2 separate regions of the Homo sapiens genome follow, and region 1 is linked to region 2. The links come from fine-mapping of genetic effects on gene expression. A gene starts in region 2. The other region holds a variant in brackets. All regions are shown on one strand. Distances are from middle to middle. Region 1 has its middle 16 kb from the start of LINC02091. Region 2 holds the start of DOC2B (double C2 domain beta).

Region 1 (2,907 bases), 22 kb before region 2:
CTCCCTCCCTGCTCCCTCCTTCCCGACTGCCATCGCCTCCACCTTTGCCCAGGCTCTTTCATGGGGAAAAGGGAACCAAAAGCTGGGCCCTGTCATCCCTGCCCCCACAGCAGGGGCCTGCCCAGATCAGTCGCTGCACCTTCTTCCCAGGCTCTGCTTCCAGACGTGGCATGGCAAGGCTGGGTTCCCTAGAGCCCGGCTCCTGAAGGCAGAAGTCAAGGCTTATTCACCTTTGGGTCCCTAGTTAGCTGTCAAGAAATATTGCTGGATCAATGGATGCATGGATGCATGGGTAGATGGAGGGGTAGGGGATGGGTCAGTGGGTGGTGGAGGGGTGAGGATGGTTGGGGGATGGGTGGATGGCAGGTGAGTGAGGAGATGGATGGAGGTCTGGATGAGTGAGGGATGGGTGAGGAGATGGATGGGTGAGTGGGTGGAGGAGTGGGGGATGGGTAGGGCGATAGTTGAGTGGGGAATGGGTGGGGGAAGGATGGGTGGGGGAGGGGTTAACGGATGGCTGGGTGGGGGAAGGGTGAGTGGGGGCATAGGGGGTAGTTGGATGGATGATGATTGGGTGGGGGATGGTGGGGGTGGGTGGGTGGAGGACAGATGGGAGGATGGATGATGGACAGACTGATGGAGCATTGGACAGATGGATGGAGAGACAGGTGCATAGATATTCTGCATGGACCAATGTGCTGAAGGACATCTGAGAGGATGGACAGATGAACAGAGGATGGACCAGTGTCCTGATGGGAAGAAGGATGTGTGGATGGATGGAAACACTCCAGGCCCAGGGCCTGTGTGCTCTGCATCCCTAGGGAGGGGCCAGCAGATCAGGAGCCCCAACCTACACTTCCCAGAAGCTGTGGGTCCTCGGCCAGGAGCACTCAGTTCACAGCAGCCACAGGAATCCTGGGCAGAGCAGCTCTTGAGCCCTGGTCTCTGTGCCTCAGCCTGGTCTGCGTACCTCAGAGGGCCCTTGTGTGGAGCCCTGGTCTGTGTGCCTCAGAGGCCCTCGTGGGGAGCCCTGGTCTGTGTGCCCCAGCCCGCCTCAGTGACCCCCAACAAATTCCCCCCCTATCAAAATCACTATAGCTGTAGTCCCAGCTACTTGGGAGGCTGAGGCAGGAGGATTGCTTGAGCACAGAAGTTGGAGGCTGTAGTGAGCCATGATCTCGCCACTGCACTCAGCCTGGGTAACAAAACAAGACCCTATTCAAAAACAGTAAATAAATGAAAGAAAACCCACTGCCACATTCCTTATGCTAATAAGGCTAGCCAGCCCTTAATGTGTGTGCAGATGAGATCTTACTCAAACTCATTCACACAGAAGTACAGGCATGTGTCACCTAACAACCAGGATACGACAGGGATACTTCCAAGAGATGTGTTGTCAGGCAATTTCATCATTGTGCAGACATCATAGAGAGCACGGACGTAAATCTAAGTGGCAGAACCTACAGCACACCTAGGCTATGTGGGAGAGCCTGGGCTCCTGGGCTACAAACCTGTGCAGCATGTAGCAACTGCGACACCGTGGAATTATGTGTGTAGCTAATCATAGAAAGGGTACAGTAAAAATACGGTATAAAAGATGTTTTAAAATGACACAGGTGTATAGAGCACTTCCCGTGAATGGAGCTTGCGGGACTGGAGTCGCTGTGGGAGAGTCAGTGTGTGGTGAGTGTGAGGGCCCAGGGCATTACTGTCCACTCGTATGTGACTGGCAGTGTAATAGGTGTGTTCACACCAGCATCACCACAAACGAGTGATAA[C/T]GTGTTGCACTGTGACATTACACGCCGCAACCTCACTAGGCAACGGGAATTTTCAGCTGCTTTGTAGTCTTATGGGACCACCGCTGGATATACAGCCTGTCATTGACAAACTTCGTTATACAATGCATGACTGTATTCTAAAATAAATCACTCAGGCCATAGCACCACTCTCCTCCACTCTGCTGCCTCCAGAGTGTGTAAGTACAGACAGGTCACTTGGCCAGTGCGGGCCTCAGATTCCCTGTGAAACACGAGGCCGAGTCAGACGCACTCCAGGGTCTCTTGGCCCTGAAAGTCTGTGACTTTGTGGCATCTCTGCCCTAGGCTGTGGGGTGAGACCGGGCCAGGTCGCCAGGCTCCTCACACTGCGGGAGGGCCCTTCGTCCAAGCCCAGCGGCTCCTGCAGAACCTGAGAGCTGTGCCAGGCGCACCTGGGAGAGCAAATCAGCCAGACTCTAAAGTGGGGTCCAGAGCCATCTCCCTCTGAAAGAGCTGATGACGTGGTTTGGATCTGTGTCCCCCCCGCGTGTCATGTCGAATTGTAACCCTCAGCGTTGGAGGTGGCGCCTGGTGGGAAGCGACTAGATCACGGGGGCGGTTTTCCCATGACTGGTTGAGCACCGTCCGCCTTGGTGAGTCCTCACGAGCTCGGCCATTTACAAGTGGGTAGCACCTCCCGCCTCACTCTCTTGCTGCTGCGCTGACCGTGTGGCATGCCTGCTCCCCCTTAGCCTTCTGCCATGATTGTAAGTTTCTTGAGGCCTCCTCAGAAGCTGAGCACATGCCAGCATCAAGCTTCCTGTACAGCCTGAGGAACCGTGAGCCCATTACTTTGCTTTTCTTTATCAATTACCCAGCCTTGGGTACTTTATAGCAGTGCAGGAAAGGACTAATACAGCCAGGGATGGTGACCCGCAAGGCCTGGAACCAGACCCCAAATGTGGCCTTCCCCAGCTCTTAGCGCCTTCCAAGTCTAAGCTGACAGCTCGGCATTGTTGCAGGTGGAAACACACCTGGATTTTCTGAACAGCTGGGGAGGGAACAGCTCCTCTTGGAGAGGAATTGTCTTCGTTTAGGAAAAATGCTTTTAAAGGGCACATTTCAACCCGGGGCCAAGGCCACAAAAGAG
Region 2 (2,907 bases):
TCTGCTCCCCATCACTCTGCAGGGGTTATGGTGGGGGAACAAGAGAGGCTTGGAGCCCCTCATTCAGATGCACCAAAGGCACCCACTAAGAAGCTAAGTGTCTTACACATCAGTGGAAACCAGAGGGTAAACAGGATTCCATCCATGCCCAGGGCTTTCCGGGAACACACCTGTCCAAGCAGCAGCAGTTCCCAACAGAGCTCTGGTCCCGGAAAGCCGGACAGCCAGGGCTGGGCCCTCTGGGATTTGTTTAGTGATCTGACCGTGTGGGAGGCCTAGAGTAGGAGTGGGGGTGGGGGGAGCGTGCCGCCCAGCCTTATTGCATCACTCACCGCCCAGGCCCTGCCCTCACTCCCTCCTGACCAGGCCCTGTGCAGGTTCTCAGCCACCCTGCCCCGGGGGGTCCTTCAGACTGTACTCACTGACCAAGTGAGGGACTGACCCGAGGTTAGAGTGCTGTGTTGTATGTGACCTGAGAATATGTGTGCACAGACTGAGCCCCGGTGTCCTTGTGCAGTTGAGCGTGTACATGTCCTGCCCGTGTGTAGGCAACCTGTCCCTACATGCTAGGAGTGTGACTCCACGTCCTGCTAGAGGGGGAGGAGAGAAGGAGTTGTGCCCAGGGTCCCCTGATCACTTCTATGGGCTCATGTTTGTGCATCTTGTTAGGGGTGCTTGGGGGTAGGGAAGCCTGTGCCCTGGGTGCCCTTGATCACCTGTGTGTGTGCTCCATCAGGTGTGCGCGCCTGTGCATTGGGGGTGTACTGTGTCACAGCTTCCTAAAACAACCATGTGCGCATGCAGACGTTTGCGTGTGTGACCTACGGTGTGAGCGAGCGGATGCTTCCACCACGTGTCTCTGCACACGCATGTGTGCACTTGCACACCTGCGTGTGTCCCGAGAGAGCGAGCGGAGCCCAGCGTGGGCTGGCACGCGCGGGAACGTGTGGGTGCGCGTCCTGCGGGTCCCTGCCGGGTTGACTCCCAGCTTGTGCCGCGGGCGTGCATGAGCGGAAGGCGCCCGGCGGCCCTGCCTGGCCGCGAGTGTGCGCGCGCGGGGTCCCGGGCCGGCGTGCACGCCGGTGTGAGTGCGAGTGCGAGTGAGTGTGGCGCCGCGCGGCTCCCTCCGCTCCGCGCCGCCCGCGCAGCCCGCACACTCACCCTGCTTGGTTGCTGCCGGGTGACGCGGGCTGGGCCCGCCCCCTGCCTGCCGGCCTCTGGCACTCGCTCGCGCCGTCCGCAGCGGAGCGGGCAGCGGCCAAGTCAGGGCCGTCCGGGGGCGCGGCCGGCGATGCCCGCAGCCCCCGCCGCGCCCCGCCGGGCCTGCTGAGCCGCCCCCGGGCCGGGGTCGCGCCGGGCCGGGCCGCGCCCGGGGCGGGGCGGCGCTGCCTGCATGACCCTCCGGCGGCGCGGGGAGAAGGCGACCATCAGCATCCAGGAGCATATGGCCATCGACGTGTGCCCCGGCCCCATCCGTCCCATCAAGCAGATCTCCGACTACTTCCCCCGCTTCCCGCGGGGCCTGCCCCCGGACGCCGGGCCCCGAGCCGCTGCACCCCCGGACGCCCCCGCGCGCCCGGCTGTGGCCGGTGCCGGCCGCCGCAGCCCCTCCGACGGCGCCCGCGAGGACGACGAGGATGTGGACCAGCTCTTCGGAGCCTACGGCTCCAGCCCGGGCCCCAGCCCGGGTCCCAGCCCCGCGCGGCCGCCAGCCAAGCCGCCGGAGGACGAGCCGGACGCCGACGGCTACGAGTCGGACGACTGCAGTAAGTTTCCCACGCGCCGACTTCGCGCCCCCTCCCCTGGCTCGGGCTCGGCCCCCCCACGGCCTCGCGGCTTCCCTCCGCCGGTCCCCCTCGCGCGCTCGCGCTCTGCCTCGGTTCACAACCCCGCCGCGGGCTTGCGGGCCCCTGGCGCACTCGGTGCGCTCTCCGCGCCCTGCCCACCGGCCTCGAGCCCTCCCCCGACCCAGGCCGGACAGGAGGGAAGTTCGGGGGCACCCCCTGGGGGTGTCCCATTTCCGGGGCCGGGTTCCTCGGAGCCGGCGCCGCGCCCCCTCCCTGCCAGCCCGCCCTCCCGGAGCTCCGGCGCGGGCGGCTGCTTTTGTTCCCGGGAAGGGCGGAGCTGCGTCCCGGGGAGACACCAGTTGCTGCCGGCCGCGCGGTCGCTCCCCGCTCGCCAGCCGCTCCGGGAGGGCCTCGCGGCCGAGGGTCGGGGCTGGGGCGAGCTGGGGAGGGGCCCGAGGCTGGGAGCGGCCCGGCCTCCCGCGTGGTCCCGGCGGCCCGCAGAGCGCAGCTGCTTTGCTGGCGCGCGAGCAGAGGACCAGGAGGACCGCGGGGCCGCTTGTCCTTTGGAAAAACCTTGGCGTTTCCTCCTCCGGTGTCCATGGACCCCGCCGCAGCCCTCGCCAGGGCCGCGCACCTTCGCCCACCTGTTACGCCCGCGGCCCCCGGGCAGAGAGGGCCCCCCAGCCCGCTCCCCCTCCTCCCGGACTGAGCCCTGAGCCCCCGGGAGCAGGCAAGCGCCGGAGTCCCGGGACCGAGGCCCGGCCGGTGGGCGCTCCTGGCGCCTTTTCCCGTCCCCGAGGGTGCCTGTCCGGCCCGAGCCGGGACTGGCTGGGAAACCGAGGCCGGAAGAGGTCGCAGTCCAGTGAGGAGTCGGTTTGCGCGGGGTGGGGATGGCATGTGAGAACCCCCTCCTAGCTCAGCTGTGGCTCCAGACTTGTCACTGAGACCTGGAAAACCAGCGTCTCGTCAAACCCCAGCCCTTCCCGGGATGTGGCCCTTCTCCAGGGCTGGTGCTGCCCCTCCCCTGCGCAGCAGGGATGTCTGCGCCTGGCCTGGGCACTCACCAGGGCCTGTGGGCTGCGGGCCTGGAGTTTCCCAAGCATCAAATGTGCCACCAGAA

The links.
Region 1: its variant is fine-mapped to the expression of DOC2B in whole blood (TOPMed, PIP above 0.99).

Annotation. Positions count from the first base shown.
Region 1 is chr17:202,071-204,977 of GRCh38, reverse strand. No RefSeq gene overlaps it. Among named protein-coding and RNA genes, the nearest start is that of LINC02091, 16 kb to the right of the region's middle. The variant C/T (reference allele first, on the strand shown) is at 1,779.
Region 2 is chr17:179,966-182,872 of GRCh38, reverse strand. DOC2B (double C2 domain beta) reads left to right here and starts at 1,223. Exons shown (of 9, transcript NM_003585.5): 1 at 1,223-1,766. The coding sequence starts at 1,394. RefSeq lists enhancers at 338-839, 2,301-2,867.